7 linked regions of the Homo sapiens genome follow. The protein of the gene in region 7 purifies or fractionates together with the protein of the main gene of each other region. This does not show direct contact. Each region holds a gene or a part of one and is shown on either strand. Other genes may lie near its edges. The genes, in order: DENND6A, SLC30A9, MTFP1, ARFGEF2, HEATR6, KIDINS220 and VSIG4.

Region 1 (3,500 bases), on a different chromosome or scaffold from region 7:
CACAGAGACACAAAGTGAACACATTGTTGGAAAAATGATGCTGATAGACTTGCTTAATGTAGGCTTGCCACAAACCTGTAATTTGTAGAAACTGGTAACTGCAAAGCACAATAAAATGATGCACAATAAAACAAGGTATGCCTATATTAATAAAAGGAGAAGGAAGAATGGTATTGGAAGGCAACAAGCATTTACTGCCTTACCTGAGAGCAGTTATAATCTTATGTAATCAAAGATTTATTTTGAAAGATTTCTAAGCTTGGGTTTTATGATATAAACTTTAGTAACTTTGAGCTGTTTGAGAGCCAAGGGTATATGTGCCTGAAAATTCTACACCATTATGTAACTTTGAAATAAAGGATTATGTTCTGTTTTACCTGGGATATGGAAATATCTGTTAATGCTTATTGAAAATGAGGCTAAACATTTATATCTTGGTAAATTTAGGCTATTTTTGTATTATTGGGATTCTATTTATTTTGTTCTTCTTATCATAAGAATCATCTGGGGCATTTGTTACATATGAGGATTCTGGGGCTCACCCATCTGCTTAATCAGAATCAGTTCCAGAGGATCATTATGTGTAGGCATGTTTGGAGTATGTTTTTTAATTTTCTCTTTATATAAACTTTTCTGTTTTTCTTGTAAACCAGCTGTTGTCAAAATGTGGTCTGAGGACTTCTGGGCATCTCTGAGACCGTTTCAGGGGATTTATAGGATGTTTTCAAACTATGTATGGCTTTTCTTCATGTTCTTCAACCAGAACAACATATTGCAATAGAATGAACATAGAATGATTCTGCCAAGAGCAAACATTAAAGAAAAACAAATTTTTTTTTAAAAAAAAAGAATGAATGCTGAAGCAGATATGAGAATCTAGTTATTTCTGTTAAATCAGACATTAAAGATATTTGCAAACATGTAAACAATGCCATCTTAGTAAGGTTTTTGTTTTGTTTAGGAATACAGGTTGTGTGTTCCTAATCTAAACATTCAAAATCTGAGACGCTCCAAAACCTGAAACTTTCTGAGTACTGACATGATGCTTTTTAAAGGAAATGCTCATTGGAGCATTTTGGATTTCAGGTTTTTGGATTTGGGATGTCCAACTGAGTAAGTATAATTCAAATATTCTAGAATCTGAAAAGATCTGAGATCCAAAACACTTCTGATCCCACCAAGCATTTTGGATAAGGAATACTCAACCTGAATATAGTTACTTTTCATAAAAATTGAATATGTTAATGAGTAATAGGTTATTATTTTAAAATAAATAAACAATTTTTTTTAATGATACTTTTAGTTTCTACAGTGGTGAATGTTGATAGATATAACTCATATAAACAAGAATTCTAGGCTGGACGTGGTGGCTCACGCCTGTAATCCCAGCACTTTGGGAGGCAGAGGCAGGCAGATCTGCTGAGGTCAGGAGTTCGAGACTAGCTTGGCCAACGTGGTGAAACCCATCTCTACTAAAAATACAAAAAAAAAAAAAAATTAGCCAGGCATGGTGGCGCATACCTGTAATCCCAGCTACTCTGGAGGCTGAGGCAGGAGGATCACTTGAACCAGGGAGGCGGAGGTTGCAGTGAGCCGAGACTGTGCCATTGCACTCCAGGTGTGTGCCACCATGCCTGATTAAATTGTTTTATTTTTGTGTTGCCCAGTGTGATCTTGAACTCCTGGACTCAAGGGAACCTCCTGCCTCCACCTCCCAAAGTGTTGAGATCCCAGGCATGAGCCATTGTACCCAGCCTCATTTATTCCTTTCCGTCACTAATTATTAAGTAATATTTGGACTTTATTTATTTATTTGAGACAGGGTCATGCTGTGTCACCAGGCTACAGTGCACTGCAGCCTGGACCTCCCAGGCTCAAGCAATTCTCTCACCTCAGCCTGTCAAGTAGCTGGACTACAGGTGTGTACCAACATGCCTGGCTACTTTTTTGTTTTTTTGTAGAAACAGGGTTTTGCTGTGTTGCCCAGACTGGTCTTGAACTCCTGGCCTCAAGTGATCTGCCTGCCTCAGCCTCCCACAGTCCACCTGCCTTAGCCTTCCAAAGTGCTGGGATTATAGGCATGAGCCACCATGCCTGGCTTTAGACTCTTTTCTTGAAACAGAGTCTCGCTTTGTCACCCAGGCTAGAGTGCAGTGGCACGATCTCAGCTCACCGCAACCTCTGATTCCCAAGTTCCAGCGATTCTCCTGCCTCAGCCTCCTAAGTAGCTGGGATTACAGGCACGTGCCACCGCACCCAGCTAATTTTTGTATTTTTAGTAGAGACGACGGGGTTTCACCATGTTGGTCAGGCCGGTCTCAAACTCCTGACCTCGTGATCTGCCCACCTTGGCCTCCCAAGGTGCTGGGATTACAGGCATGGGCCACCGTGCCTGGCCCATAAACTCTTTTTTTTTTTTTTTTTTTGAGACGGAGTCTCACTCTGTCACCCAGGCTGGAGTGCAGTGGCACAATCTTGGCTCGCTGCAACCTCCACCTTCTGGGTTCAAGCAATTCTCTGCCTCAGCCTCCTGAGTAGCTGGGATTACAGGTGCCCACCACCACACCGGGCTAATTTTTGTATTTTTAGTAGAGATGGGGTTTCACCATCTTGGCTAGACTGGTCTTGAACTCCTGACCTTGTGATCCACCCGCTGCGGCCTCCCAAAGTGCTGAAATTACAGGCATGAGCTAAACACTTTTTAAATAAGGGAACTGGAACTTAAAGAGGTAACTTGCCCCATATCACTTGCTTAATAAGCCAGGATTTGAACCCTGGTCCTTTTGATTCTGAAGCCTAATTTCCCCCCACTATACTGTGTTGTTTACTATTTAGGGAAACTGAAGCAAAGAAGATGTGAAATGCTAGCGGTAGCTTGAACTAAAATTCTTAAATTCTTGGTAGTAATAGTTTACCTCATTTCTCAAAGTGTTCCTGTTTACATGCTAATACTCAGTGTAATAATAGTACCCAGGGCTATTTTCTGAGTTGTATGAACTGCTTTTAGCATTTTTGTGATCCTTTAGTTGGCAAAATGCTTTACCGTCCTGTGGAATGCACAGTAGATACTTGCTTCTGTTTGGACAAAAGACCAGCGTGACCTATGTCAATGACATAAAGTTGGATTTCCTGAAGGTAGGGTTTCTAACTGATAATAGTTTATAGCCATGGGCAGATGAAGTGAGATGATAATAGTTCTCATTTCTAGTGTATTGTGAGGATTAATTGATACAATACAGTGCCTGGCACAAGGAAAACACTTGATAAAGTTAGCAATTGTAATTATTTATTGAGTTTTTCTGAAATAATGAAATAATTACTCTTTTGGTCTAGTTTATTTGAATTCTATCTGTATTACTCATTTAGTGAATTCCTACCTAACCTTAAGCGTCCTTTGTAAGTAATACAGGATCAGTATGAGGGTAGCATCATTAAATTTTTGTTGGTACCTATTATAATAGGAGCACTGGGACCATTTGCATAGGCCATAATAAGTACCT
Region 2 (3,500 bases), on a different chromosome or scaffold from region 7:
TATCAGGTAACATTTTAATAAGTATCCATTTAAAATCAAGATATAAGTTAAGATAAAAAAGTGTATGAGAGATTATGATTTTAAAAACCTTGCTCAATGCAAACATAATTTCTTGGCTTAAATGTCAACAATAACTGATACATAAAGTCAAATTACTTTCTCAAGTTATATAACCATATAAAGAAATACCTTAGTTCACTTAAGTCAAATCCAAATATAAAGTATCCATGTTCAAATTTCTATACTACATTTCTTTTTAATAAGGGCTGAAGGATATGTAAGAGCCACACAGGGATGATATTCAGATATATTTTGTACATTTCTATTAGGAACAAAGCAATAACAGTACTAAGTAATTTTAAGCAAATAAGGGAGGTGAAACAAACACTTGGTTTCTAAAATACATACCATACTTGTAAAATGACATTCCTTTAGCCCGAGCATTCCTACGAAGTTCATTTACAGCAACAAGAAGTGTTGCTAAAAGAAAAGCATTCATATCAGCAAGACAGAAACTTCATGCCTCCAAACTTTAAAGATGGCATCTCAAAAGATAAACAAATAAGCACAACATTTTAAAACTAGGGTTGGCAATAAGGACAAGTTCTATGTTAATTAGTTGTTATCAATTAATCATTATAATAAAATGAACCCCATAGTTCTAAACCATAATAATTAAATATAATTACTAATAACAACAGCTTTAGTTTATTGAAGAGCTGCTATTTGGCAGCACCACACTAACCACATTCATTTCTGAGCCTCCCAATCTTTTGAAGCAGGTTGTGTTATAACCATTTCATAGACTTTCAAAGATGAGGGGCCCCATAAACATATACAATTAGGATCTGTCAATAAAAAATGTTAATTTTAAAAATAGATGAAGGGAACATTATACATAGAAAGTTACAATGTTTCAGAAGTAAACATGAGCACAGCAGTGAATCAGGCAGTTTTATACTGATATTAGCAGTTCTCTGTCATCATACTGCTATAGCTGTGTATTTCAAAAACTTTGAAATATTTGTCTCACAAGAGCCAGTAAATAATATTCTTCTGGTGAATATTATTAAACTCTAATTTTAAAAGTTCAGTTTAATTATGTTTTTTATACTCCATTTCAAATGTTTTGAGTATTATGGTATGATACTCAAAAATGAAACATACTTTCCCTTTTAAATAAGTAAAATAATTATTTATCCAATTTTTAGTGAATCGGCAAGTAACAGCGATAGTAGTGGTGGTGGGTTCAATCAAGGAATAATGCTTGCAAAGTGAAAACTGTAAGGAACACCTCTTACCACCACATAGTTTAAAAATAACCACAAATATGGTGGGCTTGCTAAGCGCTTTCATGCCACATCAGTTACTGTCTTCCATCTATCTGATAGTCACCTACTTGAGCCTATCCTAGCAGCTCAGGACACAAAGAGAAATGAGGCCTTGCCAGGATGCCATCCCATGGCAGGGCGCAGTTACACACCCCCCCACAGCTATCCATTACAGAACAACCACAGTACATTATGCAAAGACTTTACTCCCTAAAAGTAGAGAAAGCTTAGATGCCTATTCCCACACTTGCTTTTCTTTAATCAACAGAACTTAGCAAACTATAATAATGGACAGCTGAATATATATTACTAAATTAAGAATAGAGACATACTTTGTGACAGTACATACCTCCTTCAGATACTAATGATCCTGCTAAAATACAATATGCCTAGAAAAGAAATATTAAAATAAAGCATAAATTAAGTACTTCCAATCACAATTGTTCATATATAAAGTCCGTAATGTCTAAAACAAAAACACGAATTCAAATTTAAGCCAGACAGTAAGGTTACTAATGGGAAACAACTCAAATGAGGAGGACAATGAGATATGAATACAATATTTGATATCAGGAGTGGTAGACACCAGATACAGTAAGATCCACACCCAAACTCAAGTAACTTCTGGATTTTGCTTCCATGCCTAATACCAAGAAAATCCTGATTCAGAAAGATAAGTAGTTACAAACAGTAACCAATGTTTGTTTTTTGGTAATACCACATTCCCTGCAATCCCAGGACACTCTTCAATTAAAGATGGTAAAAAAAGCTTTAGACAGGGGTGTATCAAAAAAAAAAAGTTAACCTAGCAACACATTTTTTTTATTTTAATGAAATTCAAACCAAACATCTACAGAATTTTCAACAATGTTTAGAACCCTAGGCTTTCCTAAAATAGAGGTCTGAAAACTTTGAACCTAGTCCAACACTATTTTAAAAAGGGCCATAGTCTAATGGAAACCCATTTAGTTACTGAAAGACACAAGAGCTTTTAGAAGTTTTAAAACTTATACACAACTGAAAATTTAACTAATTACCTAATCTCTAACTACAGAGAGTGCTTTGCCCCTATAAAGTGACACTATACAAATTAGAAGAACGCTAGAACAATGAAGTACCCATAAAGTGGCCAAATCTTTTCAGAATGGAGGAAACACATTTGTTTGTTTTAATTATATGAAATGTATTATGGTAAGAAACTAGTCAATCAAAACTATAGAAAACTAGAGAATAACAAATAAGCCTAGTTTAATGTGCTTGTTATTAAGTAGATTTGCATGATATAACAGGATATTAAAAAAGTAGACAGATTGATTCTGTCTAGTTCTGACTACAACTCAAAATAGAGAAGAAAATAGGTACAAGTATCCCCACATTCCAAAAGGAGGTGTTATACCATCTATTCAGGCCTTGCACAGAAGGTAGCCCAAACCTGGGGCCTCTACCCACTAGACTACATGCTAGCTCCACATCCTCTAGACCACATAAGAAGAGCTGAAATTGAGGAGGCCAAAAATGAAGATTTCTTTGGTGAAAGCTGTTGAGCTACTAAGATTGTTCAGTAGCCTTGATGTGTGTCCCCCGGGATATTGGATATCACAGCAAACTGTCTGATGCATACCTGAGTGATACATCCATACGCAAGCCTACTAACTGATATTGGCTGTATCAGCAGAGTAGATCATTGGGCTTGAGAGAAAAACCTGCACTCCCACAGAAAGTGTGTTAAAGATGTCTGTTTTAACACACAGGTCCCTAGGAGTCTTTTATAAGGAGATCAGCTGCTCAAAGGGCATTCTTTCCAAATGCAAGACAACTTCAGCACTGTCTGGAAACCACACCATGAGATGCAGAAGCTGAGAGGGTAGGCTATGTGATCAATTTGGGCAGCCATAGCCAGAGCAGCCAAGCAGGGTAATCTCCAAGAAGTGCCCATGAGAAAAAAAAAGACAGTTTTAAACATCTACAAAGGCCAGAGGAAACCAATGCAAAATAACACTGTAGTCAGTAAAGTGGTATGTTTTTATCCCTTATCCAAACCCTCAACACTTTCCAGGGAATAGGAGAGAGGGGCAGAAGCCCCAGAGGGGATCATACGGGTGATCATCCTGCTATCCTCCCATTCCCCCAGTGCAGGCTTCCTACCTGAAGGAAGCCCAGGATGCGGGA
Region 3 (4,072 bases), on a different chromosome or scaffold from region 7:
GAAAATAAGAGCTAATTCTTAATAAGGCCTACCGGGTATCACGCAAAAACCCTGTGCTTACTATTACACTTTGGGTTGTTGCAAAGATTAAAGGAAATAAGCCGTGCAAAGCGCTTAAGAGCTTGGTATAAGTAAGTGCTCGTCAATGTTGGCTACTCTCATTTTTTTTGCAGACGTGGGAACTGGGGCTCAGGGAGGCTAACAGCCAGTAGGCGGCACAGCTAGGATTTGAACCCAGGATTGTCTCCAACGCCGCTCAATTATACCCGCCAAGGAGTCACAGAGACTTAGTGAAGTGCACACATTGCTCACCTGGGTGAACTGAGGTCCAGCGGGGGAAGGCTTCCTCCTGTTGTAATCACTAACCCCAACTCTGTCTCCCTTGCCCGATTCATTCATTCGTTAATTAATTCATCCAACATCCTGTCCCCAAGAAGCTCAGTCTGGGGACATACTGATCCAGTTAAATGCGAGTGCTTCCTAGTTATACATGGCGACTGCTGAGAAGGGACTCCAGAGTCCAGGCACCTACCTCCCAGGGGCTCACCGTTCACTCCTCTAGCCTCATTTAGAGCTCGCATTAAGAGCACGGGATCTGGATCCACACTGTTTGGATTCAAATCACAACTTCACCACTTAGCAGCTGTGTGTTCTGGGAAAATGACCCACCTTCTCTGTGCCTCCATTTTCTCACCTGTAAAACGGGCTCCCAGGCTGGTGGGAGGGTTTCAGGTGTAAGACATGGAGAGTCCTTTAGCGAACATGTAGACTGGCAATAAACTCAATAAATGGTGACTGTTATAATTAATCCTCGGAACCATCCTAGGGAGTGGACACTATTGTGTTCCCCATTTTATTTATTACATTAATTTTTTTTTTTTTTTTTTAGTAGAGACGAGGTCTCGCTATGTTGTCCAGGCTGTTCTCGAACCCTTGGGCTCAAGAGATCTTCCCGCCTCCGGCCTCCCAAAGTGCTGGGATCACAGGCGTGAGCCAACGGGCCCAGCCTGTGTCCCTCCCTCGTTTTTACAAATGAATAAAGAGATGCTGGATAAGCCCGAGGTCACAAGCTTTGCAGTGTAGCATCCCCCAACTTGATCCCCTGTCTCTTTGGCTCCAAAACCTACACTCAGTCCTGGGAGCGATTAGCGCCAACAGCTCAGAGAAAACGTGACGAAAACCAGTCTGTAAAACCCGAGCCTGGGAGAGGGGCTTCGGTGCGCGGGGGGAATTTGCAGACGCTCCCTGCTGGCGGAGATTTCCTGACCTGTCCTTCGGCGCGGGACTTTCGGCGGGTCCCGGCCGGGCAGACCCAAGTGCCGGCGGCGGAGACTGCAGTGGAGCCAGTACCGGCTGTAGTGGCCGGGGCCGTGGCGGGAGAGTCATGTCAGAGCCGCAGCCGCGGGGCGCAGAGCGCGATCTCTACCGGGACACGTGGGTGCGATACCTGGGTGAGCGCGGGGCGACGGGCGCGGCGACCCCACCACCACTGGGCTGGAGAAGCAGGGGTCGCCGGACGCCCGCCCGGGGCCTGGAGGAGGCGGGATGATCTTAGTTCTCATTCTGCTTTTGGGCCGGAGACTGGGCTCAGACAGGGCTAGGGACTTGCCCAAGGTCACACTACCCTGGTGGGTCGCCCAGGGCGGAAGCTCCCATGGGGTGAGCGGGCTGCCCGCTCTGGCATGCGCTCTGGCTGGCTGTGGAGTCGGGATCTCCACTCCCATTTCGGTCCTGACACGCACTGGCTCTGTCTGAACCTCAGTTTCCTCCTCGGCAAAAAAACAAAAACAAAACAAAAAACAAACGAGATACACACGAGGGCCTCTCTCATTGGGTGGTGGTTGCGAGGGTGGAATGGGATAAAGCGCAGAAAGCCCTGGCACTTGGCGAGCGTCTGGTCAGTGGCGCTGCCCTCGATCACTCTGCCCCTCTGGGTGCCTGTCACCTCATTAGTGCAGTTACTCCTGGGACCAAGACCAGGAAATCTAACCAATAAGCAATGGTAACAGTGACTCAGTGCTCAGTCCGCCCTCAGTGGCCCGAGTCCGAGGTGGGCATCATGGCACCAGTTTACATCTCGGAAAGGGAGGCTCAGAGAGGTCAAGTCACTTGCCTAAGGTCACCCAGGGACTGCTTAGCTGGCTAGGATGAGAACCAGCCTGCTCCAACGCCCCCTCGTGGAACAGTTGCGAGCCTAGGAATTAAATGTTCCCTCCCCCAGGCTATGCCAATGAGGTGGGCGAGGCTTTCCGCTCTCTTGTGCCAGCGGCGGTGGTGTGGCTGAGCTATGGCGTGGCCAGCTCCTACGTGCTGGCGGATGCCATTGACAAAGGCAAGAAGGCTGGAGAGGTGAGTGTTAGCCTATTTTCCAACCCCCAACCCTAGCTCTCTTCTTGTGTGGTTCAGTCCACAGCCTTGCATGTGATAAAGTCCCTGTGGGACACTCCAGTCCCTACAACCTTGCCTAGTGCAGTCCATAGACAGTCCTGTTTGTAGGACAGTGTACCCCTGCCCCCACACTCCCACTCCCCGAACTGGATGTGGCAGACTGTACCCCACTCCTGGGTGCGGACAAGTCCACTGGCCACTTGCCCCTCCCGGTCTAGCCTCGTGCCCCTTGTCGCAGGATTTTCTGCCTCTGCCCCAGCTGGATTAAGTGTCTCTGCGCCCACCAGGTGCCCAGCCCTGAAGCAGGCCGCAGCGCCAGGGTGACTGTGGCTGTGGTGGACACCTTTGTATGGCAGGCTCTAGCCTCTGTGGCCATTCCGGGCTTCACCATCAACCGCGTGTGTGCTGCCTCTCTCTATGTCCTGGGCACTGCCACCCGCTGGCCCCTGGCTGTCCGCAAGTGGACCACCACCGCGCTTGGGCTGTTGACCATCCCCATCATTATCCACCCCATTGACAGGTGGGTACCTTCTTGGCCTCAGGGATCATCCACTCTCCAGTGATGAGAGTGGATCATCCAGTCTCCAGGTAGAGCTAGACTCTGTGAAGTGTGGGGTATGCCCACTTTGCTGGAGCAATAGCAGGGACAAGGCTGGCACTTGGCTCCTGGGTTAGAAAGGACAGCCTGTACCCTTGTCATATGGTATGGCAGGCACTTTAGCAATAAAAGAAGAGGGGTGCGTTGAGGGTATGGGACACAGGACAAGTAAATTCCCAGAAAGAAAGTCTAGTGTTACAAAACAACCAGAGAGAAGCAGGAGCAGGTGCACCCTAGAGGGGATGCATTTTGGGAGGTATTGGTGACAGAAGCCTAACTCAAACTGAATATTTGAATAAAATGGAGTAAAAGTCCAGGGCTGTGTTGCATTCAGGCATGGCTAGATCTAGGTACCCAAATTATGTCATTAGGGGTCTGGGTCTCCCCATCCTGCTGCCTTTCTCCCCACCCCACCCTATTTCTTGCTGGCTTCACCTGCTTTCTCCTTGTGGGAGTAGAAATGGCCCTAGCAGCTCCCAAGTTCTATCCCACCAGCTTAGCCTCCCCCAGCAGAAGCTTTTAAACAGTAACAACAAAAATCCCAAGGAAGGGTGTCATTGGTCCATTCTGGACTGCATGCCCACCCTATGAGCCAGTTTCCCTTTGCTGATTGGCCAGGCTTGGGTCACGTGCTTGGTCTTAGAACTAGATATGGGCTCAACCCAACCAGACCAATGTAAGAGTGAGAGGAGCAGTCTTTCTCCAGGAGAAGATAGCTGACCCTGAGGCCCTGAGCAAGTCTTTTACCCAGTACCTCAGTTTCCTCCTGAATAAAGAAGAGGATGGCTTCTATTCTGGGAGTTTGATTCTAGCTTCCCCAGGTAGCCCAAGGTGGAAGGATCAGGATAAGGGTGGGTCTCTGGCTGGATGGCATTTGTATCCTGCATCTAAGCGCCCCTTTCCCTAACCCTGGCCTTCTGCCTTCTGTTCCCTCATGAACACCCTTGGTCACCTGCTCACCACCCTTCCACTCCCTACAGGTCGGTGGATTTCCTCCTGGACTCCAGCCTGCGCAAGCTCTACCCAACAGTGGGGAAGCCCAGCTCCTCCTGATCATACTCTGGTACCTGGCCTGTGCATCGGCCT
Region 4 (3,952 bases), on a different chromosome or scaffold from region 7:
CCCCTTCCATTTCCTATTCTCCCAGCATGTTCTTTCCACTCTTCCTCACCTCCTTCCCCTTCACCTCCTTCCTACACCATTCCTTTTTCCATCTCTTTCCTGTTTTCCTAACTTGTTACTCTCATCTTTTTCTTTCTTTTCTGTTCTTCCTGACAGCTCCCCTTCCTACCTCCTCTCCCTTCACCCTTTCTCCTACTCTTTCCCCTCCTCTCATTTCTACCTCTCTTTCCTTTTCACTTCCCCTCTCCCTCCTGTCTTTCTCCTTTTTCTTTTACCTCTGTGCCTCCCTCTCACCTCTTCCCACACCACCTCATCTCCTCCATAACTAACTCACCTCCTTTTTGTTTGTTTGTTTTTTGAGACAGGGTCTCCTTCTGTGGCCCAGGCTGGAGTGCAGTGGTGCCATCACAGCTCACTGCGGCCTCAACCTCCGAGGCTCAAGCGATCCTCCCACCTCAGCCTCCCCAGTAGCTGGGACCACAAGCAGCGCCACCAGGCCCGGCTGTTTTACTTTTTATTTTGTAGAGAAAGGGTCTCCCTATGTTGCCCAGGCTGGTCTCGAACTCCTGGGCTCAAGCGATGCTCCCGCCTTGGCCTCCGGAAGCGCTGGGATTAGAGGCGTGAGCCGCCGCGCCGGGCCTCCCCCCTTCCCCTCCGCCGCCGCCTTCTCATCGCCCTTCCTCCTTCCTCCTGACGCCCCTTACTCCCGATCACTTCTCATTCATTCACCAGCTTCCAGTCCTCGCTCCCTCACCTCTTTTCTTTCCTACTCGCCTTCTCCTCCTGCCCCTTTATCATCTCTCCTTGTCACCGTTCTTTTTTGCCAATCCTCTCGTTCCCCTTCCTTTCCTCATCTCCTCTCTTACCCACGTCATCTCCATTCTCGTGCTCCCCTTCACCTCCCGTTACCTTGCGCTTCTCTCCTCTCATCTCCATCACCACCTCTCCCCGCTTTCGCCTTTCTTTAGCCCCCGCGTCCCCTATACCCTTCGCCCATGCCCACTCCCCTCCCCACCTTCTCTTCTTCCACCCTCCACCCTCGCCTTCTGTCTCTCGCCCACCTGACTCCGCTCCGCCCCCAGCCTTAGGCTCCGCCCCGCTGGGGGTCACGGGGCCGACGGACGCTAGGCGGCCGTAGCGGCCTCGCCAGTCACGTGGTCACGTGACGCGCTCCAACATGGCGGCGCCGTGGGGCCGAGGTGTCGCTTCCTGACGGGGCGGCGCGGACGGACGCGGCCGGTGCCGGCCGGGACGCCGGGCCCGCAGCCTAGCTCGCCATCTCGCTCACGCCGCCCGCCCGCGGGGCCGTCAGCCCCCGCCGGGCCGGGGCCATGCAGGAGAGCCAGACCAAGAGCATGTTCGTGTCCCGGGCCCTGGAGAAGATCCTAGCCGACAAGGAGGTGAAGCGGCCCCAGCACTCCCAGCTGCGCAGGGCCTGCCAGGTGGCGCTCGGTGGGTGAGCCGCTCCCGCCCTGCCCCGCGCTGGCCTCAGCACGTCGGCCGTTGCCCTATCCTACTCGGCCTTGGCCCGGCCTCCTGGCCTCCGCTTCCCCCCGATCCCGAATTCCACCCTTCCGGCCTCCTCCTCATTATACCCCCGGAGGAAGTGTTGCCCGGGCAGCTCGGGACTGGCCCAAGGTCACCTAGCAAGTTGGTGACAACCAGAGCTTGTTCCTCAGGGTTCCAGCTCAGGGCTTTTGCCACGATTCCTTGTCGCCCTGTTTCCTGGTTCCTCCCCTCACCACCTCCAAGTCCTAGAAACAGTAGCCCTTGCCCCAAGTTTTTTCGTTACCTGAGCTCTGCTGATTGGGGTTCCCCTAGGTGAACAGAGCATGTAGGAAGAGCCGTCCAACTGGTTTAGGGAAACCCCTGATTCTTGTTTTGGAAGTGCCCGTTGGAGAATGTTTTCCTTTGGTTTGGGGATCTCCCATAGCTCTTTCCCTCAAGGAAGGATTGTAGAAGGTGTTCTGGATCTCCCAGGCATTGTAGTGAGCAAGACATCTGCTTATTCCTAGCAGTCCACTAAAATACAAGGTCTTCAGCGCGAAGATACTTGTCTGACTTATTCATTGCTGTATCCCTTGCGCTTGCAACAGTGCCTGGCGCACAGTAGGTGCTCGATAAATATTTGCTGATTGAATGGACCCTCAGATTATGGAAAGAGGGAGAATTCTAACTAATAGTTAAAGGCTTGATAATTGATAGCAAAATCACTATCCTATCTTTCAGTTTTAATCATTTAACAAATATTTATCAAGTGCCCACTGCATACCAGGTACTGAGAATTCAGTGGGGAACAAGACGGACATGGTCCTTACCCCTATGGAGCTTATACTCGAATAGAGGAGACAAAATAATTAATTAAGAAAATAGGTGAGGTATTTTGGAATACTGATAAATACTATTTTGAAAATAAAACAGCAAGATGTGATAAAGAGGGCTTGAGGACTGCTTTCCATGGTCAGGAAAGTAATCTTTTCCAAGAGGAAAAGTAATCAGGTGGTCAGGAAAGTAATCTTTTCCAAGAGGGTGACACTTGAGCTGAATACTGAAAGGCAAGAACTATCCACCATATGGAGTTTCAGAAGAGAGTTCTTGGTGGGAGAATCCATGCATTTGACCAGAGCTGTTTTCAAGCTAATTCACTGCCCCAACGTCTTTGGTTTGGAATCTGTAAAGGCCTGTTTTTCCTAACAAAATGAGCAAATGGAAAGTTTGATTTTTAGTCACATAGTTTGAGATTGTTATCACCTTTCTCCTTTCATTTGCTACAAAGTATAGAGTAGTGTTCTTTTGGCATTTAGAAATAGGCTGGTGAACTTTGCACTTCCCTGGAAAGAAGGTCCCTGGCTTTCATCAGATTTTCAGAGGGCCCTGAGACTCCCTCAGGGGCCAACTATTGATGCAGAGGTGGTAGTCTAGATAATCTGGAAACAGTTGCTAGTCCGTGAAATTCAGGATCAGTGGAAGGAATTTACTGAGATGTAGATTTTTAAAGCTTTTCTCTTCCAATAACCAAGGCTGTTGGGTATTTTATCAGCAATGTGGGATAAGCACTGCAAAGCAGTTTGTTAGGCAAGAGCCTGGTATTTATAACTCCACGTTGAAATCTGCCTGGACTCTATCTTCTCGATATTGTTGTGGAGGTTTCAGAATAGTTATTTGGCAGAAGAGTTTTTATTTTTTCTTCAGAAAACTTCTTAACATAAAATTTTCACCAAAGTGTGCATCATATTATTGGAACCTACTTATAAAATTTTCATCTGGGTCATGAAGGGCCATTAACGCTGAGAATTTAATAGATATTTTCGGATCGTATCTTTGTTCAGAAGTTCAAGTTTTCCTAACACAAGTAGTGGAATGCATGTTTTCAGTTTTTAGTAGTGAATTGTAAAAAATGGCCTAGATAGGAAGTAATTTGACTACAGGTTATATGAATCACAAATTGGGGTTGTGCCAATGGCATAATAGGAACTGTCATAAGGGAACGTATGCATATTGTTAAGTGACCATCTTTTTTAAGAGAATAATTGTGTGTCATTGCTGTTAAATAGAAATGACTGCTTTTACTTAGAGTAGAACACATAGCAGAATGCCTGGTGATATTTCTCTCTGTCTCTCAAGGCCCAGTCTTGTGTCCAGTAGTCCCATTTAAGAAGAGAAATTTGGGGCCAGGTGCGGTGGCTCACGCCTGTAATCCCAGCACTTTAGGAGGCTGAGGCAGGCAGATCACGAGGTCAGGAGATCGAAACCATCCTGGCTAACACGGTGAAACCCCGCCTCTACTAAAAATAACAAAAAAAATTAGCTGGGCGCTGTGGCGGGCACCTGTAGTCCCACCTACTCGGGAGGCTGAGGCAGGAGAATGGCGTGAACCCAGGAGGTGGAGCTTGCAGTGAGCTGAGATTGCGCCACTGCACTCCAGCCTGGGCGACAAAACAAGACTCTGTCT
Region 5 (3,500 bases), on a different chromosome or scaffold from region 7:
TCTTCTCTGGGAGGATTCTGTCCCGTTGGGGTATGGCTTTGTGGGCAGAGCGTGGACTGAACTGCAACCCCACCTATCCTCTCAGCTGGGCACTTCTGAGCTGTGTGCAAGCCACACACTGCATGCTCACCTGCAACAGCATCCAGACACTGCTCTGGCCATAGCCAGTCATGCATTTTATTGCAAAGAAAAAGAAAACTTACAATTTCAAGAATAAGATGCCCAGATTTCTATCTTTTCTCCACACCTGTAGGCCCTAGGAAATCAGCCTGCTTTCCTCCTTACCAGAGCTACTGCTACCCACTCCACTTTGGGGTGTCCTTACTCAAGATGGGTGACAGAGTAGAATGCAGCTTCTCTTAACTCTCCCAGCCCTTCCTGGCTTCTCTGTTGCCTCTGAAGACCGGCAAGCAGGCCCTTTCCATTTGGTGGATGCCAGTGCCATTGACAATGGGCCACTGCTAGAGCTATGAGACACTCACAATCCGACCCGTCAGAGTCCTTTATCAGTTTCTAGCTCCCTTTTCTTATGTGGCTCTTGATAGCTCTGCTACTGGATGCTTTCTAGTTCTCAAACTTCCTGCCTCTTTGGAGCTTCCCTTTCCCTCCAAGTCATGCAGGTAAACTTCTCTCTCTAGTAGGCTGAGGGCAAGGGCCATACAGGAAGGCTGGTAGGAGCCAACCACCACTGAGGTGCCCTGGTTTCAAGGACTTCTTGGCTCTCCAGAAGGCGGATAACCACCTCAATGGGCTCCAACCCAAAAGGTCACCCTTAGGTGACTTCCTCAATGGAAGAAGCCGGGAAGCTACCTTACATACTCCCAGCTGACTGGTCTGCCTGGACGCTCTGGGCAATAAAGGGGAGCAGAGCCAGACTCCCCTCACTTGATGTGTGCTCTCCTCTCCAGGAACACATCCTTAGGTCTCAGATCTGAGAGAGAGAGATGCAATAAAGCGAACGCTGGCATTCAAAGTGAGCGAGGTTTGGAGGCTCCGATCCATACACCTAAGCAGCTACTGGTCCTGAATGACATATCAAGGTGCATGGCATGCCACTACTTAGAGACAGATGCCCTCCTTACATTTATTAATGGCATCCACTTCTGTACACAGCTCATAGGGGATTTCCAGTTTATATTCCCTCTCATTCCAGTTTTTTTCCTTCCTGTTTTCTTGACCATTAAAGTAATATATGCTTATTGTAGACAACTGAGAAAATGAAAACAGAAAAAATCCTACCCATCCAGAGGCAATCACTGTTAATAATTAGTCCAATTTCCTTTCAGTCTTTTTTCTACCCATCTATTGAGATCATTCTGTAGAAATTATTTAATACCTGCTTTCATTTGTTTAACATCAGAAGTATTTTTCCAGATTATCAAATTCTTGTAAGTAATTTTAAATGGCAACAAAATATCCCATTATATATCCCATTGTATAGGTAATGATGTATTTCAATGTCCCCCTAAACTTGTCTTCAGTATGTCTCCATTTTTTCCTAATACTATGACAAATAACATGTGACAAACATCTTTAACAACAACGTAGATTGGTGTGTGTCCCAAGAGGCTTTCCACCAGGGAGTGAAGGGAAACTTTCTTACCTAAAGGAAGGGCAGGATTTTTAAATACATTTCCCATTGCATAACAAGCATTCCATCGGACTTTCATGGCAGCTTCTGTTAGAACAGTAGAAATTAGGGCCTGGATAGACTCCTCAATGATTTCTGCAAATGTGGGTTTTTCTATATGAGAGGGTTGCAGAAAATGAAGCAAATTTCCAAGGGCCCGGACTGCATTGCTTTTTACCTAGAAAAAATGTAAATGCTTTAGAAATCTGTTTGGCCAAAGAGATGTTTCCAAAAGTCTAATTTCAGCTTTAAAAAAACCCAGGAGGTCTTCAACTTCTTAAAGCAAGTCCTTGGAACTCACAAGGTCTGCTCTGGTTAACATCCTGAGCCATCAGAAATGTGAGGTTCTACAGAACTCCTCTCTCTGATTATTTATTTATTTATTTTATTTAGTGCTAGACAGGACCTCAGAGAGGTCCATCTTCCTTGTTTTACTGAGATGGAGTATAAGGACCGGGAACAACAGGACAAGGCTGATTGATAGCAAGACAATGAGGAGAAGCTAGGTTCCATAATTCCAGTCCAATACTTTTCTACTAGACTAGAGTCTCAACCTCTGCAGCCCATCAGAATCATTTGGGGAGGTTTCTCCTTTTGTTTTAAAACCGATTCGGAGGCCCTAACCTCAGAATTTCTGATTGAATTACTCTGAGGTAGGGCTTCCTGGGTGATTACCAGATTTTCAGAAGTAGTATTAAAGTGAGCACATGGTATGGGTCAGGTACTGTGCTAGGTGCTTTAACATAAGGCATCTTCATATCCAGTGAGGTATATAACTTCCATGTTACATGTGAGGAGCTGACCTTCAGAGAAGTTATGTAATATACCAAACTTACCCAGTTACTAAAGGGCGAGCCAGGGCTTGAATCCATGTATGTCTGACCTAAAGCCCAGACATGTGCTTTTTAAACTTATTAGTTTAACAGGTAATATTCAAAGCCAAGAGCTACTCATCTTTCTGACTTGTCAATTTTTTTTTTTTGGAAAATAAAAAAAAGTTAATTTTAAAAGGAATCTGAATATGTCATGTAGTATTACAATGGGCACTGATATTTTTCAGGAGGCAGGAGACAGTAAAGAAACCATACACGTGTGGAATGGGCCATTTATACCCTGAGCACACCCTCAGTCTCTTTTGAACAGGAGTACATTTGGTGGGACAGTCTGAGGAACATCAAGCCACACTGAACTACCACACTGCAGCTACAATACATTAACTATCTGTTTGGGAGATACTGGGTTTTGTTGTGAGTCTACCTTGTCTTTATCCTTGGATGCTTCTATAGCTGATCGTAACATTTTCAAGAGCAGGAGACCAGAGAACTCTTCCTGGAAACTTGGGTCTGGTGTTTCCCTGTTCCACCCAAAGCAGACAACACATGTTAAAAGGTAAATACACTTAAATATATACATATAGAAATATATTCAATTAGTATAAGCCTAAAAGTTTAGGAAAACAGTTTAACAAATCTGCTTAGATTATATCAAGAAACTTACATTATATATCTTTTGACCCAATAGTTCCCCACATAGGAATGTCTCAAAAAAAAAAAAATCTCAAAATGCAGATTTCATGCACAAAAATATTCCCTGAATATAAAAGCCTACAAGCCTAAAGACTAAAACAAATGTTCAGTAATAGAAAAATGGTTAATCATCACACAGTGATAATTATGTAATCATAAATAAGGATTTCTAACAAGTCAATAATAGAATGCTTACACATTTTACATGTTGCTTATACGCTGAAGTGACAAAAAGCAGGACACGTGCACATGAATAACCAGCTACCTCTGGGGAGGGGAACTAAGGTGTCAGGGTAGAAGAAAGGCTTCACACTGAATGCTGCTTTGTACTATCTGGATTTTTT
Region 6 (3,500 bases), on a different chromosome or scaffold from region 7:
TAGTCTTTATTCTCATTGAGCTACATTTGTTTGGCTAGGGGAAGCAGACCAAAAACAAAGTATGTGGTATGTGGAGTGATGCTAGGTGTTATAAAGAAGACCTTTAAAGTAGGGCTGTGGAAGGGGGATATAGTAGAGGGGGAGAGGGCTGTTTTATACACGTATAAATGGTATACACCATTTATACACGGTGGTCAGAGAAGCTCTGATCAGGTGACGTATGTACAGAAAGTCACTGTGGCCTGAGTAGAGTCAAGGAGAAGGAGCAGCAAGAGTTGAGCTTAGGGAGGTGGAGAAGGGGTGGAATAGATCAAGCAAGGCCTTGGCCCTGGTAGGGATCTGGGATTTTGAGTGAGAGGACAACCGTTGGGATGTTTTGAGCACAGAATGGTTGTAAGAAGACACGATTCAGGAGGACCACTTAGGCCTCTGTGTGGAGGGGGCAAGCGCTGCCACCCAGGCCCAGGAATGTCAGCACCAGGGTAGGCTCTGGGGACTGCACAGGGGTGATTGTTGCTGGAGACTTAAGTGGGAGGAGGAGAAGAGGGGCTGGAGATAGAGAACCATGGGAGGGGCCACATTCAGGAACTTACTGTGTCGTATCTGGAGGATAAGAAATAAGTAAGCCTTGGGCAGCATGGCACTATTGTTGCTTTCATGCACTGTGTCTGTAACCGGAGAAAAGTTATAGGGTGCGTCTATTAACCGATTGGCCTTTTGGTGAAAGCATTTTGAATACATTTAGAGATTTTGCCTATTAAATTGGCAAGTTCTAAAAATGGACTTACTACAACATAAATTTTTTGTTCTGACATTGCTGTTGGCTACATCTGCCATTTTCAAAACGGGTGGCAAGACATTAATTTTTTTGCTAATTGTGCAAAAGAATGTATAGCCTTATATTCCCATTAGAGAGAAAGTGCTGTGGACATTAGATTCAACTGATGTCCATTTATTCAAGAAATATAGTGTCTTGTATGGGCCAGCTATTAAGCTAAGTGTTGGGTATTTGGTATAGAACGAAAGAAAATAATTCATTCCTTTTAAAAGCTTATATCCTAGTGGGAGAGACAGCTATTAATCAGGTAAATATGTCCCATTCCAGCAGGTGTAGCTAAAAAAAAAAAAAAAAAAGACAAATTTAAAAAACATAAATATGTAAATTACAAGTTTAGTAAAGTGTTATGAAGGAATAAAAAAGATTCCATAATAGAGAACAATCCAGGTTATGAGAATCAACCAAGAAAGGGTGGTTAAGAAATGATCATATTCTGTTATTATGTAAAACAGCTAATATTTATTGGCTTCATATGGGTTAGGTATTATTTTAATCCCATTGCATGTAATTGTGCAGTTATTTGAAGATGGGGAAACTCAGACACTGAGGTGAAGAAACTACCCCAGGGGACAGGGAGTGATAAAGAGAGGCTGGTTAATAAGTACAGACATACAGTTAGGTAGAAGGAGTAAGCTGTAGTGTTCAGCAGCATGGTACTATGCTTAACAGTTTATTGTGTATTTTATTTTTTATGGTATATTTTAAAGTAGCTAGAAGATAAGATTTGAGATGTTCCCAGCACCAAGAAATGAGAAAAGTTTGAGGTGATGGATATCCTAAATACTCTGATTTGATCATCACACATCCTATGCATGTAATCCAAATATTACACATACCCCATAAACATGTACAATTATTATGTATTAGTTAAAAAAATTAAGGAAAAAAAAAAGAAACTAGCCTGGGATGATATAATGGTCAGTAGTAAAGTCAGGAGTCAAACCAAGGTAGTCTGGCTCTAGGGTCCATACTTTTGACCACTAGACAGCTTCGTTTTAAGCCGAAAGGGCTTTTGGAAGTGAACGTTGAACTGAAATGTGAAAGATGAGAAGCTGTAGTTTTCCTCCTGTGATGAAACATTTTTTTTTCTATTGAAAATGAACGTAGACTTAATACATCAAGTAAAACAATATAGCACAAAGACGCGTGAAGGCAAAGCTAATCATCTCCTCCTTTTAGTCCTACATGGTAAGATAACGAATTTTACAGCCAGGTGTGTGTCCTTCCACACTTTTCTTTTTGTTCATGTGTACACACTGGATAGATACATATATGGGGGTCTTATTTATTTTATCAAGTAGAATTATACTACACACGTGCTCTTAAACATGACAGCGTGTCATTGGTTTTACTATTGTGTGTATCAACAGATGTGGATTTAATGTTCTAATTTTATTTTGTAATTTCTAGGCACTTATATATGTGCTTACAAACATCTTATGACATTTAATAATCAATTATTCAGTGAAATTTATTAAACACTGTCAGTGCCCTCTAGTCAAAGACTGCCAGGAACATACCTCTAGTTGAACAAAGTTGGTCTTATTAACTCCCTGCAATGAAGGAGAATGCCTGTCCTAGGGAACGTTGGGGGTCTCTGTAACAGGTTGTTAGAAAGGACTTAGAAGATTCGAGATGATGTTAGGTGATTCGGGGAAGAGTTCAAGGAAGCAAAGCTTTGCTCAGTCTCGGGTGCTTCAGGAATAAGGAGGAGTGGGAATTCTGCAATTGGATATTTAAAATCTTAACGAAAAGGCAAGAGGTATGGAGTAAGGCTAAAGCTGTAATTGATAAAGAAGCAGCAATGCTTCATATTAGCCACGATAGGAAGATGTTTGGGCATTTTGTGGTTTGGGTGATGTTCATGTTTTTGTCTATGTTCAGATATGATTCCAGAGTAGTCTTATTTTTGTCTTCATATCCTGGTGACAGAGTGACCTTGTTTGATGTTGGCATTCTTTGAAATTGTTGCATTTATGTTAGAACACCAAGTCTGGCTGTGTGTGCCGGGTCAGTTCCCGACAGTCAGGGGCTGCTTTTCTCTCTCACCTCCTGTTGTGTAGGCATTGTGCTAGATATAAAGCAGATCCTGCTGCAAGAACTTCTAGTCTAAGGGAGATGTGGAGAGAGTGAGTAAAATGGAGAGGAGAGTTGAGTGTGATGTGAGCAGTCTACAACTAGATGTATACACAGGTGTGGAGGAGCCCAGGGCCTGGCCCAGCTTGGGGTAAGCAGCCAGTCAATGAAGGCTTCCAGAAGATCTGTTAGAGCCATGTTCTTAAGGATGGGTAGGAGCTGTTCAGGCATATATACGTGGAGAATGGACTTTCTAAGCAGAGGGGGCATTAAGTGCAAAGGTCTGGAAAGAACAAAGTGTGGGGCAGTGAAGGAGCTGCAAGTAGATCAGTCTGGCTGGAGCTGGAGGTGTAGATGTGACTATGTAGAGGGTGGGAGGGATGGGGCTGAGGAGGGGAGAAAGATAAGGCTGGAATGGTAAGATGGGGCCAGATTGTGAAGAATCTGCATGCCCTCATCATAATCAAGAATTGAACTTACTGAGTTTTCACTCTGCTCAGTGGAGAGCAAAGCTTTCCGTAGGAATTGTGTATTTGCATCTTTACAATGGCTTTAAAAGCCTTAGAAGGCGTAAGTTCCTTGAATA
Region 7 (4,296 bases):
CACCTGGCCAGGCAGAAATTTACATCTGTCCAGTGGGCTTTTTAGCGGGGAAGGGGAGGGGTGTGTGTGTGTGTATGTGTGTGCGTGTGTGTGTGTGTGTGTGTGTGTGTGTCTGTGCGGTGGTGGTGGTGTAGTGGTGATAGGGTGTTGGTTGAAAAATATCAAAGGAGGGTTCTGTGAAGTTCAGGGTTTCCTGAGTGAGGACCCGGTGGGAAAAAATGGCTGAAATTTCCAGTGAGATGGAATGAGTGCAGTACTCAAAAAACAAGGAACAACCAGCCAAGGGGGATTGGGCCCTAGAGGCAGAGGTGATTGATAGAATTCCATGTAATAATGTGTCCTGAAATGCTGGAATGTCTCCTTAGCCCGTGCACAGCTCCAAATCATCTGCATGCAGCCACCCCTTGGCAAGTATGTTTCTTTATATTCCCACTCCCCATCTCTGCACAAACTCCTCCCTCCCCTGACCAAGTCCTTTCCTATCCCTCCAATCAAAGAGTAAACTAAGCTTAGCTGTTACTTACAGTGCAGTATGAATTTTTGGGATGTATTTGTGCTTTTGAAAGTGCTTATTGTTTCAAAGCTTAGTAGACAAAGCGCAGTGCCAAACCTAGTTAGACTGCTGATGAAATTACAGTCACTCTGGGGCCTGTGAAGAGGAGCAATTTCTGGAGCAGTTGAGCTTTGCTAGGAGGCATAATATTACTCTCTTGTAGGTCAAGGGCCTGTACCAATTGGAAGTCAATGAAAAATTCAACCTAATACAGCATACCACTAATGGGCTGCTGCACTGGAGGCTAGGCTTAAATTTCCCTTAAAAGAAGTAAAAAATAAATTCCTTATGAAAAAGCATGGAGAACATTAATGAAAATGAATTCTCCCTTACCATCAGAGAGGTGGAGCCATTGTAGAAAGTGATTCAAAGAGCTTCCCCAATATGAGATATGAGGCATATTCACCCATAACAGCCTTATCCATTGGCTTGTCAATTATTCAAGCTTTGATGTGTAGAAAGCCCTTTAATACACTAAACTCTTGTACTCTTAAGCCCAAAAGCACCCCGGGCCCAACACCCTGTCCAGTTGCATAGGCTGCACAGGCAAGGGTTAACAGTACAACTAATGAAAATTGGGTAGGTCAGCAAAGTTGATCTCTTCTCCCTGGGCTCACCACAAAGGAAAACACCGCCATACTGGAGTGGGAAGACTCATCCCAAAGGTCGCCCCCACAACCTCTGAATCTTGTGGAGGAGACTCAAAATAAATACAGCCTAGGAGATCAAAGACCAGAAAGCCCCATTGGCTCCAAGGAAAGTCAAGTCAATACCCTAGCAGGGGGAAGAATTGCTTCACTCATCCTGGAACCTCCAACCCCAAGGAGGTGGGGGAAGGGGGGCACCCCACATGACCTGTACTGAAATAGGGAAGGAAGGGGAATGTGTGATGGGACTAGGAGTTTGAGTGAGAGATATAGGGAAGGAAGGGAAGTAAGCAGTCACAGACGCTGGCGGCCACCAGAAGTTTGAGCCTCTTTGGTAGCAGGAGGCTGGAAGAAAGGACAGAAGTAGCTCTGGCTGTGATGGGGATCTTACTGGGCCTGCTACTCCTGGGGCACCTAACAGTGGACACTTATGGTAAGGCAGAAAGGGGGGCCTGGCTGCCATTGCTGGCTTAGGCAAAAGGCTAGAGGGTTGGTGTTTAATGTCTACTATGGAAAGCCTATTCCTACTGGGCAGGTGAGTCTTCTCAGCCAAACTCTGCAGGCTCTCTCAGCCTTGAGCAAAACGGATGGATGTAGTTGAAGGCTGCTGAAGAAGCCAGAAGGCAAGTTTGGGCAGAAATTGAAAAAGGATTTTTCTCTTGGAAAACATCTGCATTATTTTCTAGGGCTTGTATCTCAGGGGCATCAAGAAGGTTCCCAATGACATCCGAATCTTTCCTCCATCTGCTGTCTCTCATCTAAAATTCTACAATTGGACTTAACCACTCTGCTTCCAAGCTTTGGTCTCTGTTAAAATATACAGCCCCCGAAGAAGGAGTGTTTTCTAAGAGTTGGATAGGACTATAGAAGTAACCTATACCACCCTTCATTGTCATGAATAAGTGCTCAGAAACATCCAGTAGTGATTGAGATTTCACTGTTCACTACCTCCCCAGACCATCTAGTCCATCCAGGAGCAGCTCCAACTGTTAGAAAGTTCTTATTTGTGTTGAACTAAATCCAGTTCCCTCTGACTTCCATCCAAAAACCCCAGCTTTGCTTCTTGGGGCTACACAGAACATAGATGCTTCCTTGCCCTGTGATAGCCCTTCAAAGCCCTGAGGACAAGTACTATGTCTCCTTGACTCTTCTCTCCTCCAAGCTGAACAGCCCCAGCTTTTTCAACTGGTCTTCATAGGACTTGGTTTCTTACCCATTCCTGGGATAACTCACTTCCCTATAGACATGGCTCAATTTGTCTGGGCTATTTATGGGCTGGATACAAATCCCAAAGGAGGATGGACTATTCCATAGTGGCATTATTTCCTTGGAGCTTGGGAAGCTCTATCCTCATCTACACTCCTGAGAAGTGAGATGGATTTTCAGGAAACTCAACCTGGGTAACAGCTAAGTGAGATCCAATATAGGGTAAAGGGGGATTTTGCTGCTTCCCTATCATCCCTAGAGAAAAAGGCTGGATAGGTGTTAGCTTGGTGTCACTTGTTAGGTCAGAAAGAATCCAGCTTTCCGTAGCTGACTCTGATTAGGTTACCCTATCCTGGGGCTCTGTGACCCATCACACTCTGGAACCTCAGAGTTAGAAAAGACTCTGAATTAAGTCAACCAAGAGAAAAAATAATTTGCCCCCAAGCCAAAGAGCATTAGTGGCAGAGTTAATGCTCCTGAAAAAACATTTTTCTTTCTATAACTACCACATTTCCATTCTCTAGCAGGTTTTATAATGTATCTCTCTACCTTCTCCAAGTCTGTTGGTTTGAGCTAGGGCTTAAGCCTGGGGCTTGAGGGAGCATTTTAGAAATGTTAAATTTAAATCCTTTGTTTGTGTGTGTGTATGTGTGTGTGCATTCATGTGTGTGTGTGTGTGTGTGTGTGTGAGAGAGAGAGAGAGCACTCATGTGTCTTGTTCCTTCCCCAGCCTATGAGCTTTTCCAGACCTGGAAGCAGGCCTTCCATTTGTACACAGGATCTTATACTATAGACCTCAGGCTCAGGTTATGCTGAGCTGCAAATAATACCTTCCCTCTCCCTGGACCTCATTGTTCCTAGCCCATCTGTACAGTGAGGAGGTTGACTTGACTGGTCTTAAAGGGGTTTCTCAGCTGGACAACTCTGTGGGACTGCAGCTTCACTGCTAAAAACCCTGTAGCGGCCAGAGTAAGCTGCTAGCCTCTTCCTGTGGGGCTAAGAGATATGTCAAGATAATCAAAATTTAAAAAATTTCTAATATTCACATTTTATATACATTTTAAACATTTCAGAAACATTTTATAAACATCTATTATATAAGTTAATCCTCCATCCAGGAGGCATTCCAGGAAAGGGAGAGAAGCCAGTCATGTGGGGGAATGGGATAGAGATATGGAAAATGTCAACCTCTTTGTGATGATGGGAGGAAGGGGATTCAGAAAGAGACCTAGAATGGGTCTTATAAAGGAGCACACACCTAGTAAATTCAACCTTTCTTTTCTTCAGTGCCATTACACAGGCATCAGACATTTGCTTTTATAAGGCTGGGTCTCAGGACCACATTAAGCTCAATACTGTATATATACTTATCAGCAATAAGTATATATACTTATCAGCAATAAGTATATATACGTATCAGTAATAAGTTTATATACTTAGTAATAAGTATATATACTTATCAGTAATAAGTATAATATAATATAATGTTATATATTATATATAAGTAATTATCAGTAATAATTATATAATTATTATATATTATATATAAGTAATTATCAGTAAAGTGGAAGTAATAATAAAGGAAGTAATATAATATAATAAGTATATAAATATATAATATAATATAATATATTATGAATATATTATATTATATTATTATTATATAATATATATTATATATTGTATTATATAATTATTATATATATTATATTATTATATAATTATATTATATATTATATTATTATATGATATATATTATATATTAATATTATTACATAATATATATTATATATTATATTATATTATTATATAATATATATTATATATTATATTATATTATTATATAATATATATTATATATTATATTATTATATAATATATATTATATAT

The links.
Region 1: the proteins of VSIG4 (region 7) and DENND6A purify together in Homo sapiens (affinity purification with mass spectrometry; 3 studies listed by BioGRID and IntAct, with this or other methods). This does not show direct contact.
Region 2: the proteins of VSIG4 (region 7) and SLC30A9 purify together in Homo sapiens (affinity purification with mass spectrometry; 3 studies listed by BioGRID and IntAct, with this or other methods). This does not show direct contact.
Region 3: the proteins of VSIG4 (region 7) and MTFP1 purify together in Homo sapiens (affinity purification with mass spectrometry; 3 studies listed by BioGRID and IntAct, with this or other methods). This does not show direct contact.
Region 4: the proteins of VSIG4 (region 7) and ARFGEF2 purify together in Homo sapiens (co-immunoprecipitation; 2 studies listed by BioGRID and IntAct, with this or other methods). This does not show direct contact.
Region 5: the proteins of VSIG4 (region 7) and HEATR6 purify together in Homo sapiens (co-immunoprecipitation; 2 studies listed by BioGRID and IntAct, with this or other methods). This does not show direct contact.
Region 6: the proteins of VSIG4 (region 7) and KIDINS220 purify together in Homo sapiens (affinity purification with mass spectrometry; 3 studies listed by BioGRID and IntAct, with this or other methods). This does not show direct contact.

Annotation. Positions count from the first base shown.
Region 1 is NC_000003.12:57,683,078-57,686,577, reverse strand, and holds part of DENND6A (protein DENND6A), read left to right. Parts: intron 1-3,500.
Region 2 is NC_000004.12:42,063,530-42,067,029, reverse strand, and holds part of SLC30A9 (proton-coupled zinc antiporter SLC30A9, mitochondrial), read right to left. Parts: intron 1,721-3,500; coding exon 1,681-1,720; intron 546-1,680; coding exon of another isoform or gene 496-545; exon of another isoform or gene 481-495; coding exon 409-480; intron 1-408. UniProt on the Homo sapiens protein: Mitochondrial proton-coupled zinc ion antiporter mediating the export of zinc from the mitochondria and involved in zinc homeostasis, zinc mobilization as well as mitochondrial morphology and health.
Region 3 is NC_000022.11:30,424,496-30,428,567, forward strand, and holds the start of MTFP1 (mitochondrial fission process protein 1), read left to right. Parts: upstream 1-1,272; 5' UTR 1,273-1,384; coding exon 1,385-1,451; intron 1,452-2,221; coding exon 2,222-2,349; intron 2,350-2,675; coding exon 2,676-2,908; intron 2,909-3,966; coding exon 3,967-4,039; coding exon of another isoform or gene 4,040-4,072. UniProt on the Homo sapiens protein: Involved in the mitochondrial division probably by regulating membrane fission. Loss-of-function induces the release of cytochrome c, which activates the caspase cascade and leads to apoptosis.
Region 4 is NC_000020.11:48,920,559-48,924,510, forward strand, and holds the start of ARFGEF2 (brefeldin A-inhibited guanine nucleotide-exchange protein 2), read left to right. Parts: upstream 1-1,152; 5' UTR 1,153-1,331; coding exon 1,332-1,452; intron 1,453-3,952. UniProt on the Homo sapiens protein: Promotes guanine-nucleotide exchange on ARF1 and ARF3 and to a lower extent on ARF5 and ARF6. Promotes the activation of ARF1/ARF5/ARF6 through replacement of GDP with GTP. Involved in the regulation of Golgi vesicular transport.
Region 5 is NC_000017.11:60,044,422-60,047,921, forward strand, and holds part of HEATR6 (HEAT repeat-containing protein 6), read right to left. Parts: intron 2,985-3,500; coding exon 2,888-2,984; intron 1,809-2,887; coding exon 1,604-1,808; intron 1-1,603. UniProt on the Homo sapiens protein: Amplification-dependent oncogene.
Region 6 is NC_000002.12:8,831,114-8,834,613, reverse strand, and holds part of KIDINS220 (kinase D-interacting substrate of 220 kDa), read left to right. Parts: intron 1-3,500. UniProt on the Homo sapiens protein: Promotes a prolonged MAP-kinase signaling by neurotrophins through activation of a Rap1-dependent mechanism. Provides a docking site for the CRKL-C3G complex, resulting in Rap1-dependent sustained ERK activation.
Region 7 is NC_000023.11:66,037,281-66,041,576, reverse strand, and holds the start of VSIG4 (V-set and immunoglobulin domain-containing protein 4 isoform 1 precursor), read left to right. Parts: upstream 1-1,496; 5' UTR 1,497-1,578; coding exon 1,579-1,633; intron 1,634-4,296. UniProt on the Homo sapiens protein: Phagocytic receptor, strong negative regulator of T-cell proliferation and IL2 production. Potent inhibitor of the alternative complement pathway convertases.